Linked DNA regions of Homo sapiens: region 2 is linked to region 1. A link means that fine-mapping ties the variant in region 1 to the expression of a gene that starts in the linked region. Tissue or cell type: whole blood. Region 1 holds a variant in brackets; the other region holds the start of a gene. All regions are shown on one strand. Distances are between the middles of the regions.

Region 1 (8,102 bases):
CGCCCTGAGCCAAGTACTAAAGTAAGGCCCAAATACCACACTTACTTCATAAAGAAACCAAAGTCTGACTGCCTCCATTTCTCATGAGTGAAAAACTGTTTCTATTATAGGAAACTTAGGTCTTCAGTGTGTTTGATGGTAGCATGCTATTAGATTGTGTATTCTCAAGTCTGATTTTCCCCATTACTGTGCTTTCTCCTTTTCACTTCTGCTTTGTCACTTGGAATGTTTCTAGAAGTAGAAGTCACTGCCCCTGCCTACATCAGACTGCAATTCCGGGACATCCAGGCAACAGCAAGGGATAATTAGGAATAAATTTGGCTGGAAGAAAGGGAAAATGCAGCTTAGGCAGCCTAAACCAACAGGCTTATTTTTCTCACTCAGTAAGAGAGCTGAGGTCGCCTGACTCAGCTCAGGTTCTCAGTGAGCCATCAGCCACCAGGTGCCACCTTTCAGTGAGTGGGCTTCTATCCCTTCCAGGTGTCTCTTCATGCTCCATGGGAATTAGATGGGACATGCTTTGACTCTCTCTTCCAGAAGCTTTCTCTTCTTTTTGAAGGGGCTTCTGTTTGCGCTGGGTGGTCAATGACTCAGCCTAGTCTTGATTTATCCCCCAGGATGGGGACAGACAGCAGGGGAGAGATCTCAGGTTGAGATGAGTGTACAGTAAGGGCTGGGAGTATCAGAAGGGGAAACGCTCTCCCAGATAGTGACAAAGCTAAGCGACCATGTGAAGGGAGAGGACAAACATCCCATGGAAAGAAGGGTAGCTGCCAGGCCTGCGGGAAGGAAGGAGCATGATGCTGGGGCATGGGAGCAAGTGGACAGGGAGGGCTCTGCAGGTCCCCTGGAACCTAAAGCCAGGGGTTATGGAAGGCAGATCCAGATTCAGGTGTTCAGAGGATGAGGCAGGGGTGGGTAGTTTAAGGAGCTGGAGAAGAGGTATCTCCTTGGGGAGTGGAAGATGTTAGAGAGATACAGGGTTGCAGGACAACAGGGAGGTGGAAAGAGAGTGGGGGATGGACTGTGGCATCTGGGCCCCACCAGGAAGGAAGTGGCCCCATTGGTGACTCATACAGGGAGGGGTGGGGCCAGTGGGTGCCTGGGAGCTCTGGTACTTGGGCAGGTCTGGCTTCCTGCTGCCACATCTGTTGGGAGGTGAAGCCTGCAGGCCAAATAATGACCTTCATTTTCAAAGCCTTTTTGAATAAATAAACTTTTTTGAGGTTTAACTTACATATATTAAAATTCACTTGTTTTAAGTGTTTAGTGCAGTAGGTTTTGCCAAATGTGTGCAGTCACTACACTCGATACAAAACATTCTATCACTCAATTCAAAAACCTTTTAGTATACCTCCAGGTCTTGGCGCAAAGAGGGCTTGCTGTTGTTGGGTGTGGGGGCTCACCCAGTCCTGGAGACAGAATGGGCTCTTTGTCTGAAGGTGGGGCAGGGTGCTCCCCCAGTGGTGTGGGAACTGAGCCAACTGGAGAGTGAAGTGGGATGCATGGTGTAAGATGAATAAGGGAAAGGCTGCAGAAGTTGCATTCCCAGCATTTTCCTTCCCGGGGATTCCCAGCAGCTCAGCAGTACCGGTATGAACCAGTTTTTTTCTGACTGCCTCCAGCATGAGCTGAATTTCCGTCTGTGCAGTTATCCTCAGCCAATTGAAAATCACCTGGAGTTGTATTCCAAGCACAAAAGAAGGTCAGAGAGTGGAGGCCCGATGATCATGATCGCCCTGTCTCCAGGGCCTAGGCTGGAAGGAGTCCTGCAGCCTTTGTGGCTCAGGACCAGAGAGCTGACCTTGACCCTGACCTTGTGATCCCAGGCATCAGTGGCTGGAAATTCCTTTCATTTTATTGTTGAGCCCAGAAGCGCCCAGCTCTCTTTGGCAAGGTTAAGCTAGGGTAAGAGGCACTGTTACTAGAGTGACCAGAGTTCTTTAAGCGTCGCTCTGCTATTACTCAGTTAACCTTATTAATACCCTGCCTGGTGACTGCTGTGTGTAAATTCTGCCTGAGCCCACATCTCTCCAGTGGGAATATGATTGACATTCCAGGTGCTCTAAGTAAGTTGGAAAAGCCCACAGAGAGCCTCAGTAAAAGTTAGCTATACCTATCCCTGCTGCTATTGGTGGGTTTTTTTTGTTTTGTTTTGTTTTACTATTTTAATTGTTATTCAAAGCTAATTTTATTGAAAAGAAGTAAACTTGTGATTTTGCTATGACTTTTGGCTCTGGATCCAAAAGTGAATATTGTCCCCTAGGATAAAGGAGGCTGTCTGTACAGCTGGAGAGACTCTTGATCTAAGGTCTTGCTCTTGGGTGACTTTGCCCTGTGTTTCTGGACACTTAATGGGTTTTACGAAATAGAAGAAAATGTTTTAGGGGTTTAATAAAGTTTGGGTTGTGCTGTTCTCCAGTACTTACTGGGTTTGAGGGTCATGCCCTATCCATGAACCTGTTGTGGCCCCAGGGAACTAAGTAAGTGTCTACAGCTAGACTTGGGGTGCGGGTCACATGGTGTGAGGGTAGACATTCTAGCACTGGAGCAAGTTTGGGGTAAAGAAAAATTTTGATTAGGTTTTTTGTGGGTTTTTTTTTTTTTCTTTGAGACAGAGTCTCGCTCTGTCGCCAAACTGGAGTGCAATGGCATGATCTCAGCTCACTGCAACCTCCGACTCCCTGGTTCAAGTGATTGTCCTGCCTCAGCCTCCTGAGTAGCTGGGATTATAGGCACACACCACCACCCCCAGCTAATTTTTGTATTTTTTTTTTTTTTAGTAGAGACAGGGTTTCACCATGTTAGCCAGGATGGTCTCGATCTCCTAACCTCGTGATCCGCCCGCTTCAGCCTCCCAAAGTGCTGGGATTACAAGCATGAGCCACCAAGCCCAGCCTTTTTCTTCTTTTTTTTTTTTTTTCTTTTTTTTTTTTTTTTTGGAAACAGGGTGTCACTCTGTCGCCCAGGCTGGAATACAATGGTGCGATCTCAGCTCACTGCAACCTCTGCCTCCCAGGTTCAAGCGATTCTCATGCCCCAGCCTCCCAAGTAGCTGGGACTACAGGCCTGCACCACCACACCCAGCTAATTTTTGTATTTTTAGTAGAGACGGGGTTTCACTATGTTGGCCAGGCTGGTCTCGAACTCCTGATCTCAGGTGACCCACCCACCTTGGCCTCCCAAAGTGCTGGGATTACAGGCATGAGCCACTGCGCCTGGCCTGATTAGGTTTTACGTGACAGTGGTAGCTTGCTGTTGGTTCTTGCTGTGCAGGGGTGGGATACAGCCAGACTGACTCCTGCTCAGTTTCCTGCTGTATTCAAGGGGTTTCTCCTTTTAGGTCAGGTCCTCAGTTATTGGAGGCCTGGGTAGAGGCCAAGAAGTGCAGTCATTGGTCATCCCTGCTTTCACAATGAAGATGGATGTCCAATGCATGTGGTCCCCAGTCATCTCTGCTTCTAGAATGTATGGAGCT[C/G]TCAGTCCTGCTGGAAAAGCTCCATGAAGTCAGAAGTACCTGAGGGTGTCCAGTGTATTTGTGCACAGCCACCTTTTAGATCCCTGTGTCCTTGACAGAACCAGTCATGGACTGAGTGGGAGGCAGCCTTTACTTTGCCTAGGGAGTTGATGCTGAGACATCCTCTGTTTTCTCTCCTAAGAGTAAGTCAGTTTTTTCCTCTGGTGGAAATACTGCCTTTTCTCATGTTGGAGGAGAACACTGAGTTTTCATGAGAACCGATTTAATGGAGGAAGGTGAGAATCTCTTTGGAGATTCCAAACCCTGGGTTTCTTTAGCAAACATTTTGATAGCATCTGTTGAAAAGGAAAGTTTAGGCCCAGATGGTGGCTCATGCCTATAATCCTTGCACTTTGGGAGGCTGAGACGGGCAGATCAGTTGAGCTCAGAAGTTCAAGAACAACTTGGGCAACATGGTGAAACCTCATCTCCACAAAAAAATATTTAGTAAAAAAATTAGCCATGCGTGGTGGTGCGTGCCTGTGGTCCCAGCTACTCAGGAGGCTGAAGCAGGAGAATCACTTGAGCCCCGGAGGTGGGGGTTACATTGAGCCAAGATCGTGCCAGTCTACTCCAGCCTGGGCAGCAGAGCCAGACCCTGTCTCAAAAAATAAAAAAGAAAGAAAAGGAAAGTTTGCAGCCTTTTTTCATGTTCCTGATTGTTGGGTTACATTTGTATAAGATGCTTCTGTAATAGGTTTTGTGGGAGGTGCCAGAAGAGAACCCCAAATCTGTCTTCTACATCAGACAATACACCAGAAATTAACCAGAAAGGTAAAAACCGTAAAACCTCAAATAGTTTGATTTGTAAAAACATTTTAAAGGCCAGGTGCAGTGGCTTACGCATGTAATCCCAGCACTTTGGGAGGCCAAGGCGGGTGGATCACAAGGTCAGGAGTTCGAGACCAGCCTGGCCAACACAGTGAAACCCTGTCTCTACTAAAAATACAAAAATTAGCTGGGCATGGTGGCAGGCGCCTGTAATCCCAGCTACTCGGGAGGCTGAGGCAGGAGAATCGCTTGAACCCAGGAGGCAGAGGTTGCAATGAGCCGAGATTGCACTACTGCACTCCAGCCTGGGCAACAGAGCTAGACTCTGTCTCAAAAAAAAAAAAAATTTTTAAATATAATTCACATAACATAAATGTAATTATTTGGCCTGGTCCTGGTGACTCACAACTGGATTCCCATCACTTTGGGAGACTGAGGCAGGAGGATTGCTTGAGGCTGGGAGTTTGAGACCAGTTTGGGCAACAGAGCAAGACCCTGTTTCTTTAAAAAAAAAAAAAAAAAAAAAAAGTCATTTTTTAAGTGTACCATTCAGTGGAGTTTTGTTTTTAACAGATGGGTTCTTGCTGTATTGCCCAGGCCAGCCTTGAATTCCTAGGCTTAAGTGATCCTCCTGCCTCTGCTTCCCAAGTGACTGGGACTACAGGCACATGCTACTACACCCAGCTACAGTGGTTTTTAGTATGTTCACAATACTGTGCAGTCACATCTCTGGTGGTTGTTTTCTTTAAGTTATTTTTTCTGAATACCAAAAAATACATGCTTATTATAGAATGTTTTAAATATTCTACAAAAAAGAAAAAGGGAAGGAAAAAAAAAGTATTCCACAAAACTCCCCTCAAAAACAGATTTCACTGAGAGATCAGACTCCCCTGCATGAGGCAGATGGTCCAGGCCTGTGCATTATCATTGTGTCTTTTCTAGTTTGTGTCTAGCAGCAGTATATAGCAGTGCTCTTGGTAGTGGGACCATCTGAGTGACGTACATCTGTGCCCTAGCCAGCATTATAAAAGAACCTGTCTGAAAAAAACAGAAGACCTTAAGGACCAGCATACTGGATTCTGTAGCCATCTCTACCTTCTGGTCTCCAGACTCAGACAGACCCATTTGATATCCAGCCATGTCCCAGACAAGGAGCACATCTGGGTGGCATCTTGTTAGAAGGAGAATGCAAAGATCTCATAAAGTTTTGCCTTGCCTCTCCAAGTTTTTCAAGACAGTCTTATCAGAGTTTATTGATGGAAGAATTTTAGAGGCTGGAAAAGGTATTGCAGAAAAGAAAAACAATGTTTCTATTTTTTTTTTAAACTGATGTTTTGCCAGGCGCGATGGCTTACGCCTGTAATCCCAACACTTTGGGAGGCCAAAGCAAGTGGATCACTTGAGGTCAAGAGTTTGAGACCAGCCTGGCCAACATGATAAAACCCCATCTCTACTAAAAATACAAAAATTATAAGCCTGGTGGCGTGCTCCTGTAATCCCCGCTGCTCAGGAGGCTGAGGCAGGAGAATCACTTGAACCCGGGAGGTGGAGGTTGCAGTGAGCCAAGATCATGCCACCACACTGCCTGGGCAACAGAGCGAGACTTCATCTCAAAAAAATTAAAATAAACTGATGTTTAATTGTGCTTTTCTTTTCTTTTTACAATGAACTTTTGTGAAGTCTTAGTATGTCTGATCTCTTAAATATTTTAAAAACTTGCATCTTTGTATGAGATGAATAAACCATTACAGTTCACAGTATCTGCAAATTGTAAATCAAATAATTCAGACATGGAATAGCCAAAAATAGTAGGAATATAAGTAAATTAGTTTATAGTTTTTCTAAGGAAATTCAAACTGATAACTAACACCTGACTTTGTGAAGTATTAGACTGTGTGCTAATGCCTTTAACTAGGGTAGTCTTTACAGCATACCTATGAAGAATGTATATATTTCTCTCCTCATAGATGAGAAAACAGCACAGAAAGGTAACTCACTAAGAGCCTACCTCTTGAATTTGAATTTTGATCCCTGACACAGAGATCAGATTTGAATTTCCATCTCTGACCCCACACTTTGAGCTCTTAGCTCCTGAGTTTCTCCTGAGGTAGCAATGATATTATTTCTCTGTGGGGTTAGTGCTGCCTCTTACAAAGGATCAGGTTCCACTTTGTTCCCAGGGAAGTGAAAGGACATGAGCAAGGTGACCCTGGGCTCTTCACAGGTTGTGCTGAGCCCTTGGGGCCTTGAGGGAGGTGTTTGATGGGGTGTTTGATCCCACAGAAAAACTGGTAGAGTTTGCAGACCTATAGACAGAAGGTCAAGAGATCACCTCCCAGGTGCTGGGGCCGGGGGGAAGGCTGAGACAGTAAGTGTCTCTGTTGACCTACATCCTGAATCTGTCCCCAGGCCCAGTGAATAGGAACTGAGGAGAGCTGTTGGCATTGGGCCTTTGGGTTATGTGTGTTGATGGAAGGCGGCCACAGGGCATCTGTGTTATAGCTGTGGGGGTCAGAAAGTGCATCCCGAAGACAAAAGTTGTGGAAAGCAGGGAGCCTGAATGCTGAGAGAAACCCACCGTTTGGGAACAGACAGAGACCCCACTGTCCAGGAGGAAGCAGGCTCAGCCAGCCTATGGTAGACTTGCCTTGCCTGCAGAGAGCAGTTCTCTGTGGCCACAGATGCATCCTGGACTTAGGGGAGCAGTGAGGTAACCCTGTACCTTCTTTGTCTTTAGTCATGGGACATTTTTTTTCGCAACACGAATGCCGGAGCCCCACCGGGCACTGCCTACCAGAGTCCCCTTCCCCTGAGCCGAGGCTCCCTGGCTGCTGTGGCCCATGCACAGTCCCTGGTAGAAGCACAGCCCAACGTGGACAAGCTCGTGGAGGACCACCTGGCAGTGCAGTCGCTCATCAGGGCATATCAGGTAAGGCGGGTGCTTTACCCGCACACGGGAAAGGGTGCAGTGTTCCTTAGGTCATGCCTCATGGGCCCTATTGGCCTTTCTGAGTGTATGTTGTCACTTTACTTATACCTCCTCAAATACTAGGTGCTTTCTCCCTGCTTTGGGAGGCTAAAAAACAAATACACAAGAAAAAGAACCAGGCTAGCCCTATTTGAGCAAATCTCCCAGCACCACTAATGCCTGCCTTATAAAAGGGATCCTTATTTCCTTTCCTTCCTTGGCAAGAAATATTTGTGGGCAGGGAAAACAAGTCAGTACCCGGGCATCAAGGAGAAGTGCTGCCCATCTGCCAGTGAGCAGTGACTGGGAGGGGTGGTGCTTTTGGGTGGTTGATGCCCCCTTCTCAGTTGCTAACAACTGAATACTATAAGAGAAGAAAACCATACTATAGAGTTTGGGGATGTGGAGGCAGGGAGAGGCAGCTGAGGGTACAGCTGAGCCTACAGAGAGTGATGAGGGGCAGGGGAACTCTCCAAAAGTATTGCAGTTAGTGGCCAGTCTCGTTAGGCAAGTGTTGAGCAGGACAAGGTTTTTCCCCCCATCCTTTCCCAGAGCACAATAACCAAAGTTTTTCTAGGATGTCCACCTGATACATGGGGAGAGCCTAGAGTTCAGATCTTAAGACTTCATCTGTGATAGTTCTAAGGACGACAGGTAGAGACAAGTGAGCCTGGTGCTTCCCTTCTGGAAGCTCCCATGGGCATCCAGGACCCTGCCACCTGTTCTTGTGTAACTGCTTTGGTGGCAACAAGGGGACTCATGTCCCTGGGCTGTCTTTTCTCTCATGCTTTGGTTTCTGGTGGCATGGGCCATGGGCAGGTGTTGTAATGGGGCAACATAGGGGAG
Region 2 (8,102 bases), 69 kb before region 1:
AATGGGGCCCCTGTTCTCTGTGGAGAAGAAAGCAGCGAGGGTCCCACAGGCTGAGGCCTTAGGATAGGGTCTTCATTGGAGGCCTCCTGCACCTCCCCCTTGGGGGAAAGCAGCAGGGGACCCACCGCCTTCCTGGGATGCCGAACATGCAGGTTAGCTGCACCTGGGCCTCTTACAGTGATGACCCATCTGTCCCCGTGTGTGGATGGGGGTGGCCTGTGTGGCCCCAAGCCCAAGAACCCGTCACCCACTCTCTTCTCCTCTCCCAAGGAGTACCCCATGGTATTCCTTGGGAGTCAAGGTACCCCCATGACGACGGCCACAGAGAGCAGTCCAGGACCACCCAGCACCCTGGGGTCAGGTGCTGTCCTGAGCTGTCACAGCAGCCTGTCAGGTCACTCAACGCTCATGAGGCAGACAGTAAACACAACTTTGGACAAATTACCTCAATTTGTTTATCTCTCAAGGGGGACAGTGCCTGCCACTCAGGGCAGAACAAGGATGGATGGTGGAAGTGGCCTGTCACACTATGTTGTGACCTCTGTCATCATTATCATGGAGTTTTAAAGCATTGTGGAAGAAGCCTGACCCTGGCCCAGGACCACAAGAGCCAGGCTCTTACCTCCACTGAGAAGCTCCTCAATCTTGCCTAAGTGGAACTGCTCCGTGGGAAGCACAAAGGTTAAGACTATGCCTGGGTTGTTAGCGCGTGCTGTCCTGCAAGGGAAGACAGTGCAGCTTGCATCTCCAACCCGCAGGCTCTGTCCAGCACACCCCAAGTCCCTCAGTGTGCCTACCATGCAGATGCCTGGGCCGTCACACTACTACCTGCCAGCTCGATGGATGTAGGCCTCAGGGGTTGGGGGAAGATCAAAGTTGAGCACAGCAGACACATGGTGGAAGTCTATGCCCCGGGCCACACCTGCTTCCGGATCAGAGGCCCTGCAGAGATAACTCAATGTCAGCCGGACCCTTCCTCTCCTCTGGGCACGTATTCACACGCTGAATCAGCAAAACTTCCTCTAAATGCCTGTAGATCATAAGACCCTGACATACAGAGGACTCTCCAACAATGGAACCGTTCCAGGAGTCAGGGTTTCCTGGGGCAGCCTGGAGCTTTGACATGTACCCAAATCTCGGCCTGACCTCTGTTCTGGGACAACAGCAGAACTCATTGCCCTACATGGTGATCTGAAAACCAACTCTGAGCTAGTCAAGCCTTCAGCTGGACAGAGACTGGAGAGTTGGGGGGTTCCTTTTCCCTTCAGAAATATGCTCCCTGCAAGTCACAGCCATACCACCAATGCAGGATGGGCCATCTCCCCTGCAGGGCTCTGCATGCCAACAACCCCGGCAGTTTTGCCCTTCGTGGTGCATGTGCAGTGTGCACCATCCACTCCCTTCTCTATATCCAGGCAGCTGAGCAAGAACCTGTGGGGCTCTCTGGGCTACACTACCAGCCAGGCCTGGAAGGTTTGGCTCCCTGCTCTGTGCACTCTGGTTTTAGTCTTCCAAAAAGCTAAAAACACAGGCATTTCTGGGGAGGGATGGAAAAAGAGGCATGGACTCACTTGTCCCCTTTGGGCCCTCGGCCCCGACGCTTGCCCTTGACTGGGGCCCCCAGGACTTCAGCATCAGTTGCTATGACACAGTCGTAGAAGCCTTGGTTGAACTGTGAGATGATGTGGCACCTGCAGCCAAGAGCGGACAGAGAATCAGCTCAGCAGAGCAAGCTCAAGGCCCCTCTGCCATCCCTAGTATCACAGTAACCATCACCCTTTCCTTTTTCCTCTTCTTAATCTCTTTCCCTACTTAATCATTGTGCCTCAGTTTCCTCAGCTGGAAATAATTATAGGGTTTTGTTTTTTTGAGACAGAGTTTCACTCCTGTTGCCCAGGCTGGAGTGCAATGGCACGATCTTGGCTCACTGCAACCTCCACCTCCCGGGCTCAAGCAATTCTCCTATCTCAGCTTCCTGAGTAGCTGGGATTACAGGTGCCTGCCACCATGTCCAGCTAATTTTTGTATTTTTAGTAGAGACGGGGTTTCACCATGCTGGCCAGGCTGGTCTTGAACTCCCGACCTCAGGCGATCCGCCCACCTCGGCCTCCCAAAGTGCTGAGATTACAGCAGGCATAAGCCATGGTGCCCGGCCATGATAGGTATTTTGGAGTTGGGAGAAGTCAGTATCAGTCACATCTAGAACCTGGCCCCTACTAAGTGCTTAAGAAACAGAACATTAACTGGGTCCCCTTTCCATCTCTATCTTCAACTTATTTCAACCAAGATGTTGGCTGTGGCAGACCTGGAGCGCAGTGGAAGCTCTCCATTGAGCACACAGGTGGGGATGCTGAACTGTTCCAAGAACAGGCGTAGCCGGTAACTCCGTTCTAGAGTGTTGACAAAGAGCAGAGACTTGCCCCGAATCAATGACAGCTTGAGCAGGGCATACAGCAGGAGGAATTTGTCTTCCTCAGTCTCACAGACCACCTGAAACTGCTGTAACTGGTCTGGCCCAGGCAGCTGGGACTCCTGTAACTTAAGGGTAACCTGGGGGAGAAAACAGGCCTGTGGTCAGAAAGGAAAAGAACACAGAGATGTATGGCCACTTACTCACCAACCAAAGCATCAACATTTTAGTGCAGGGCAGAGATGCATTTAAGGATTCCTGGCACCCTAACTCTCCTCCAGTTTTGTAACCTAAAACCCCAAAATGCCCTTATTGTTGTGGTATATAGAGTATACCATATAAACCATATATAAAATACTTCCAAGCACAGAACAAAGAGAAACACATCAATAAAGGACTACATTGAGAAGGGAAGGCCTACAGCAACAGGCCTTCTGAAAGGTAAAGTTTACTTAAGATGAGAACCTTGGCCTTAGAATTTTGGCTCTGCTGCTCAAAGCTGCCCCTTAGGGGAGGTCCTTGCTCAGGATTTTAGGCAAAGCATGGCCTGAAATGGGAGACATCCCTTGTGGACACTTGGAAATATATAGTGATTTTAGACCACTGGCTTTTAGTGCCTCAGGACCAGGGATGAGACACTAAGTGACAACTGTCCCACCCAAAACACCAAAGAATCCCCTAAGAAGGAGCATCAAGATCTTTGAGTGCCCCCATGTCTGCAGCTCCAGACACTTCCATGGTGCCTCTTACCGGGTTATGTAATATCAGCTCCTTGAGTGCTTGTACGTCCTCGTTAAAAGTAGCTGACATGAGAAAAGCCTGGTAAATCCGGGGCAAGTGACTGAAATGAAAGAATCCAATCAGATTCCAGCTCCAAGGGCCGCTAATTGTAGTAACTGGCTTCCAGCCACCCCGCTCTCGTCCCAACTCCTACTCACAGATGTTTCCACTAGGAATCACACCCACCTCTGCCTTACCAGAGGAGACTCTTGAGCTCTTCTTCAAAGCCAAAGGAAAAAAGAAGGTCAGCTTCGTCCACCACCAAAAGCTCCAGGGAGTCACGAAGTTTCAGGCTGTCTTGCTGCAAGTGGCTTAATATGCGAGATGGGGTCCCTACTACCACATCTGGCTTCTCCATCAGCACAGCTCTGGAGGTGGACAAGACATCAGTATCAGGCAGAATGTAGCAGCTGGGATCTCACCCTGGATTTGCTCTCTTTTTTGCCACACACAAACCCAACCCCACAACACTGTGTAGCTTCATTCAGGTACAGCTTTGCTGCTTTTACCCACCTCTGAGAGACTGAGTCTTCAGCAGCTGAGACATTGGCCACTCGGACATCCCGAGCACAGTAGGTAGCCAGCTGCTGAATCATGGACTGTGCTTGCCGTGCCAGCTCCTTGGTAGGAACAAGAACAAGGCCTCTCACTGCCTGTTCTACCACCGGACCTGTCTGTAAGAATATGAATTAAAGACTTTAGCCAGCAGTGCACATCACTGTGTCCACGTGTCTCTACCCCTTCCAGCCTACCTGACCCATCTGCTGCAACACTACTTAGCAGTACTTTGATCATCTATCACTCTGCCCGCCTCAGAATGCAGAGTGGAGAGTTCTTTCCCCAGGCACTGACCCTCAAAAAGAATAACGTACTCTGATGTTTATGAAGCTACTTTAAATATACTAGTTATGAAGCTAAATTCTCACAATAATTCTGTAAGTAGAAAAGATAGATGTGCTCCCTTTTTATGTAAGAAAGAAAAGAAAGTGCTTTGTCGAAGATTACGCAAAGGTTGGTGGTAGCAGGGCCGGACAAGGATCCAGGTAACCTGAACTCCAGCCCAGAGTGTTTGCCACAACAGCACCAGGTTCTCAGGCCGGCCTGCACGGGTACAGGGCCAAGAGAAAACCTCAGACAAACGGGAACCGCCCTTCCCAGGCTTTTGGAGCTTGCCTCCTTCCTCCCCTCAGCTCTCTCGTTACCCACCGCCTTCCTATGGAGCAACAGCTGCAGCATCGGAATAGCATAAGCGGCCGTCTTCCCGGAGCCCGTGCGGGCCCGAGCCAGGAGGTCCTTCCCTTCTAGGGCCAGTGGGATGGCCTTCTCCTGGATCAGCGTAGGTCGCGACCAGCCCAGATCGGTGACAGCCTAGGAGACCAGGAGTGCGGTTTAAGCGGCGTGAAGAGCGATGGCGCGCCCCGCAGAGCCCGTAAGCCGGCTCCCCAGCCCTCGCGTGTACCTGAAGGAGCCGGGGATCGAGGCCCATGTGTTCGAAGCCCAGTGCTTCAGAGTCCTCCATGGCGCTGCTCAGTAGCGCAGCACGCACGCGCTGCAGGAAAAACGCCACCGACGCGAGCGGGAGCAAAGCAACAACCAATCGGCTTCGGAGACGAAGTCACTTCCCGGAAGTGCTGGCGGCCTAGGCTTCCGGTACTCGGACGGAGCTCTGCGACTGCGCAGTCCCTAGGACTGGGTCTAGTAGGAGGCGGTGGAGCGGCCGTGCTGGGGTCGACGGGGTACTTTGGACTACAGAGCCGCTCCACTGGCTCTTCCGGCGTTCCCGGACGCCGCTGACGCACCTGATTCTCGCGACCTGCAGGAGAAGCCTCGGCCGGGGCGAGGGCCGAGGTCGTGACGGGCATGACCGTCTCTCTGCTTGGTTAGGGTTAGTGTCCCGCCGGGCACATCACCCTATGAATGGAGCCACTGAGATAGACTGGGCTGAGGAGAACCGGTTGGAATAATGAGCCATGGCAGCAACTGCCTGAGAGAGAGGACCGGCGGGTTGCTGTAGGGCTCCCTAACCGGACTGCCTGTCAGAAACCTGCACAGCTTGGTTTCTGTTCTTTGTGTCCCAAATCTGACTCGGGTCACCAGTTAAGACCCGTGTCAGACTTCTGACCTACAGACTTGCGTCGTTTTAAGCCAGTAAATTTGTGGTAATTTGTTACAGTAGCAATAGGAAAATAATACAGGTGAGGACTAAGAATCCTAATCACAAATCTTTTTTTTTTTTTGAGACATGGTCTGACTGTCACCCAGGCTGGCGCGATCTCAGGCTCAAGTGGTCCTCCCACCTCAGTCTCCTGGAAAGCTAAGACTACAGGCACGCACCACCACGTCCAGTTAGCGTGTATGTATGTATGTACGTACGTGTGTGTGTGTGTGTATGTGTATATATGTAACTCCTCCTCCCCTCCCCCCTCCCCTTCTCTTCTTTTCTTTCTAGATGGGGTTTCGCCACGTTGCCCAGGACGGTTTTGAACTCCTGGGGCCAAGCGATCTGCCTTCCTCGGCCTCCCAAAGTGCTGGGATTGCAGGTGCGAGCCACTGCTCCTGGCCCATAAGTCTTTCAGTGTAGAAGAGGGAAGCAGAAGAGGTCAAAGTGGTGCCATGTGAGAGCTCAACCCACCCTTGCTGGAGGAAGGGAGCCAGAGCCAAGCTGGAAAAGGCAAGGAAACAACCTTTGTGATTACATTAGGCCCATCCAGATGATCCAGGATAATTTATTTTACAGTCATCTGATTAGCAACTTAATTCTCTTCTGTCATGTTAGGTAACATATTCATATGTTTCAGAGTGGTAGGCCATTATTCTACCTACCATACCACCCAACACAAATCTACATTAAGACTATATCTGAGTGTTGCACAGGAATCTATGTCAACAAGCTTCCAGGATGATCCTGTGCATCCTATCTGATGCAGCCCAGCATCTGAGTACCAGAGACTAGCATCTGGCTGTTAGGTTAGGAGAGATCAGCTCATGCACCAACAGGTAGTCATGCTGGGACCAAATGATGAAGATAGGTACAACTAGTCCCAGTGAGAGCTGGGGAATTGGGCTGGGATAATAGAGGATGTTAAGAATGGAGTGTCCCCTCAACCCCAGAACTTTTTTTTCTTTTTTTGTGGTAAGGAGGGAGAAGGCTGTTTGGTAAGGATGTTGTAAACTCTGAGAAAGCAAGAATTTCAAAAGTCAAGGGTAGTATTGGGGGGAAAATCACTAGAATTTGTGTGTGTGTACCCTAACTACTGTTTTGGTTTTGTTTTTGTTTTTTAGAAGGAGTCTCACTCTGTCGCCCAGGCTGGAGTGCAGTGGCATGATCTCAGCTCACTGCAAGCTCCACCTCCCGAGTTCACGCCATTCTCTTGCCTCAGCCTCCCGAGTAGCTGGGACTACAGGCACCTGCCACCACGCCCGGCTAATTTTTTGTATTTTTAGTAGAGACAGGGTTTCACCGTTGTTAGCCAGGATGGTCTCGATCTCCTGACCTTGTGATCCGCCCGCCTCGGCCTCCCAAAGTGCTGGGATTACAGGCGTGAGCCACCGCGCCCAGGCCCTAACTGCTGTTTTTTAAAAAACTTTTTAGGTCACAACCTATCTGTAAATATGACACACCAGTATGGAAATCCTTATTCTTCTCACAGCCACCAGCTATTGGCCCATCCACTGACTATCCCAATTCCACCTGCCTTATCAGTGGAAAGGTGAAATGTATGCCCACTTTTTCCTCACACCATTCCCCTTTCTATCAAAAACTACCAAGAGAAACCCAGGACCTACCAAAATAGTTAAGATGTGCTCCACTGTGTCTACTGCCAGCCAAACCTGTTGAAGGCTGGCTCAACCCTAATCTGTGCCTTCCTGTCTTCTCACAAACGTAGTCTGATTTGCTGGCTAGATTTCTAGTAACAGCCACAGAGCAGAAATGTGTCCCTTCCCAATATGTCACATAATCCCCAAGAGCCTCAGGCCAGAAGTCCACAACATGTAACTAGTTCAAAGGATAAAATTTTTCTCTGCATTAATTCTAACATGAGGAATACTGAAAACTCTTTTAAACATCTGAAGAATTTCAGCAATTCACAATTCACCTTACTGGAGTGTTACACTGTCATCCAGATTTAGAAACAGGAGGATATAAAACTATTAAATGGAAAAGCCTAGAGAACTAAATTGCATTTTTTTTTTTTTTTCTGAGACAGAGTCTCCCTCTGCCCCCCAGGCTGGAGTGCAGTGGCTCGATTTCTGCTCACTGCAACCTCCTCCCGGGTTCAAGCGATTCTCCTGCCTTAGCTTCCTGAATAGCTGGGATTACAGGCACACACTACCATGCCTGGCTAATTTTTATACTTTTAGTAGAGAGGGGTTTTCACCATGTTGGCCAGCCTGGTCTCAAACTGCTGACCTCAGGCGATCCCCCTGCCTTGGCCTCCCAAAGTGCTGGGATTATAGGCGTGAGCCACCCCACCTGGCCCTAAATTGCATTTTTTTTTTTGTTTTTTTTTTTCAGATGGGATCACTGTTGCCCAGACTGGAGTGCAGTGGCACGATCATGGCTCACCGCAGCCTTGACCTCCCGGGCTCAAGTGATCTTTCCACCTCAGCCTCTCAAGTAGCTGGGACTATAGGCATGTGCCACCAGCTAAATTTTTTGTATTTTTTGCAGAGACAAGATTTCGCCATGTTGCCCAGGCTGGTCTCGAACTCCTGGGCTATAGGGATCCACCCACCTTGGCTTCCCAAAGTGCTAGGATTACAGGCGTGAGCCACCGTGCCCAGCCCACATGTATTTTTAAGAGTAAAAATAGCCAGGCACAGTGGAGTATACCTGTAGTACCAGCTACTTGGGAGGGTAAGGTAGGAGGATCACTTGAACCTGGGAGCTCAAGGTTGCTTTGAGCTGTGA

Evidence for each region. PIP is the estimated chance that this variant, and not a neighbour inherited with it, causes the effect.
Region 2: it holds the start of DDX56, and the variant in region 1 is fine-mapped to the expression of DDX56 in whole blood (TOPMed, PIP 0.96).

The regions. Positions count from the first base shown.
Region 1 is chr7:44,638,302-44,646,403 of GRCh38, forward strand. OGDH (oxoglutarate dehydrogenase) reads left to right here. Exons shown (of 23, transcript NM_002541.4): 3 at 7,026-7,217. Among named protein-coding and RNA genes, the nearest start is that of OGDH, 36 kb to the left of the region's middle. RefSeq lists enhancers at 1-235, 81-200, 89-616, 681-830, 1,145-1,672 and 1 more. The variant C/G (reference allele first, on the strand shown) is at 3,479.
Region 2 is chr7:44,569,187-44,577,288 of GRCh38, forward strand. It overlaps DDX56 (DEAD-box helicase 56), which reads right to left and starts at 4,722. Exons shown (of 14, transcript NM_019082.4): 1 at 4,650-4,722; 2 at 4,397-4,558; 3 at 3,704-3,864; 4 at 3,388-3,558; 5 at 3,161-3,251; 6 at 2,306-2,550; 7 at 1,572-1,691; 8 at 829-942; 9 at 623-717; 10 at 1-17. The coding sequence starts at 4,709. RefSeq lists an enhancer at 4,339-4,488.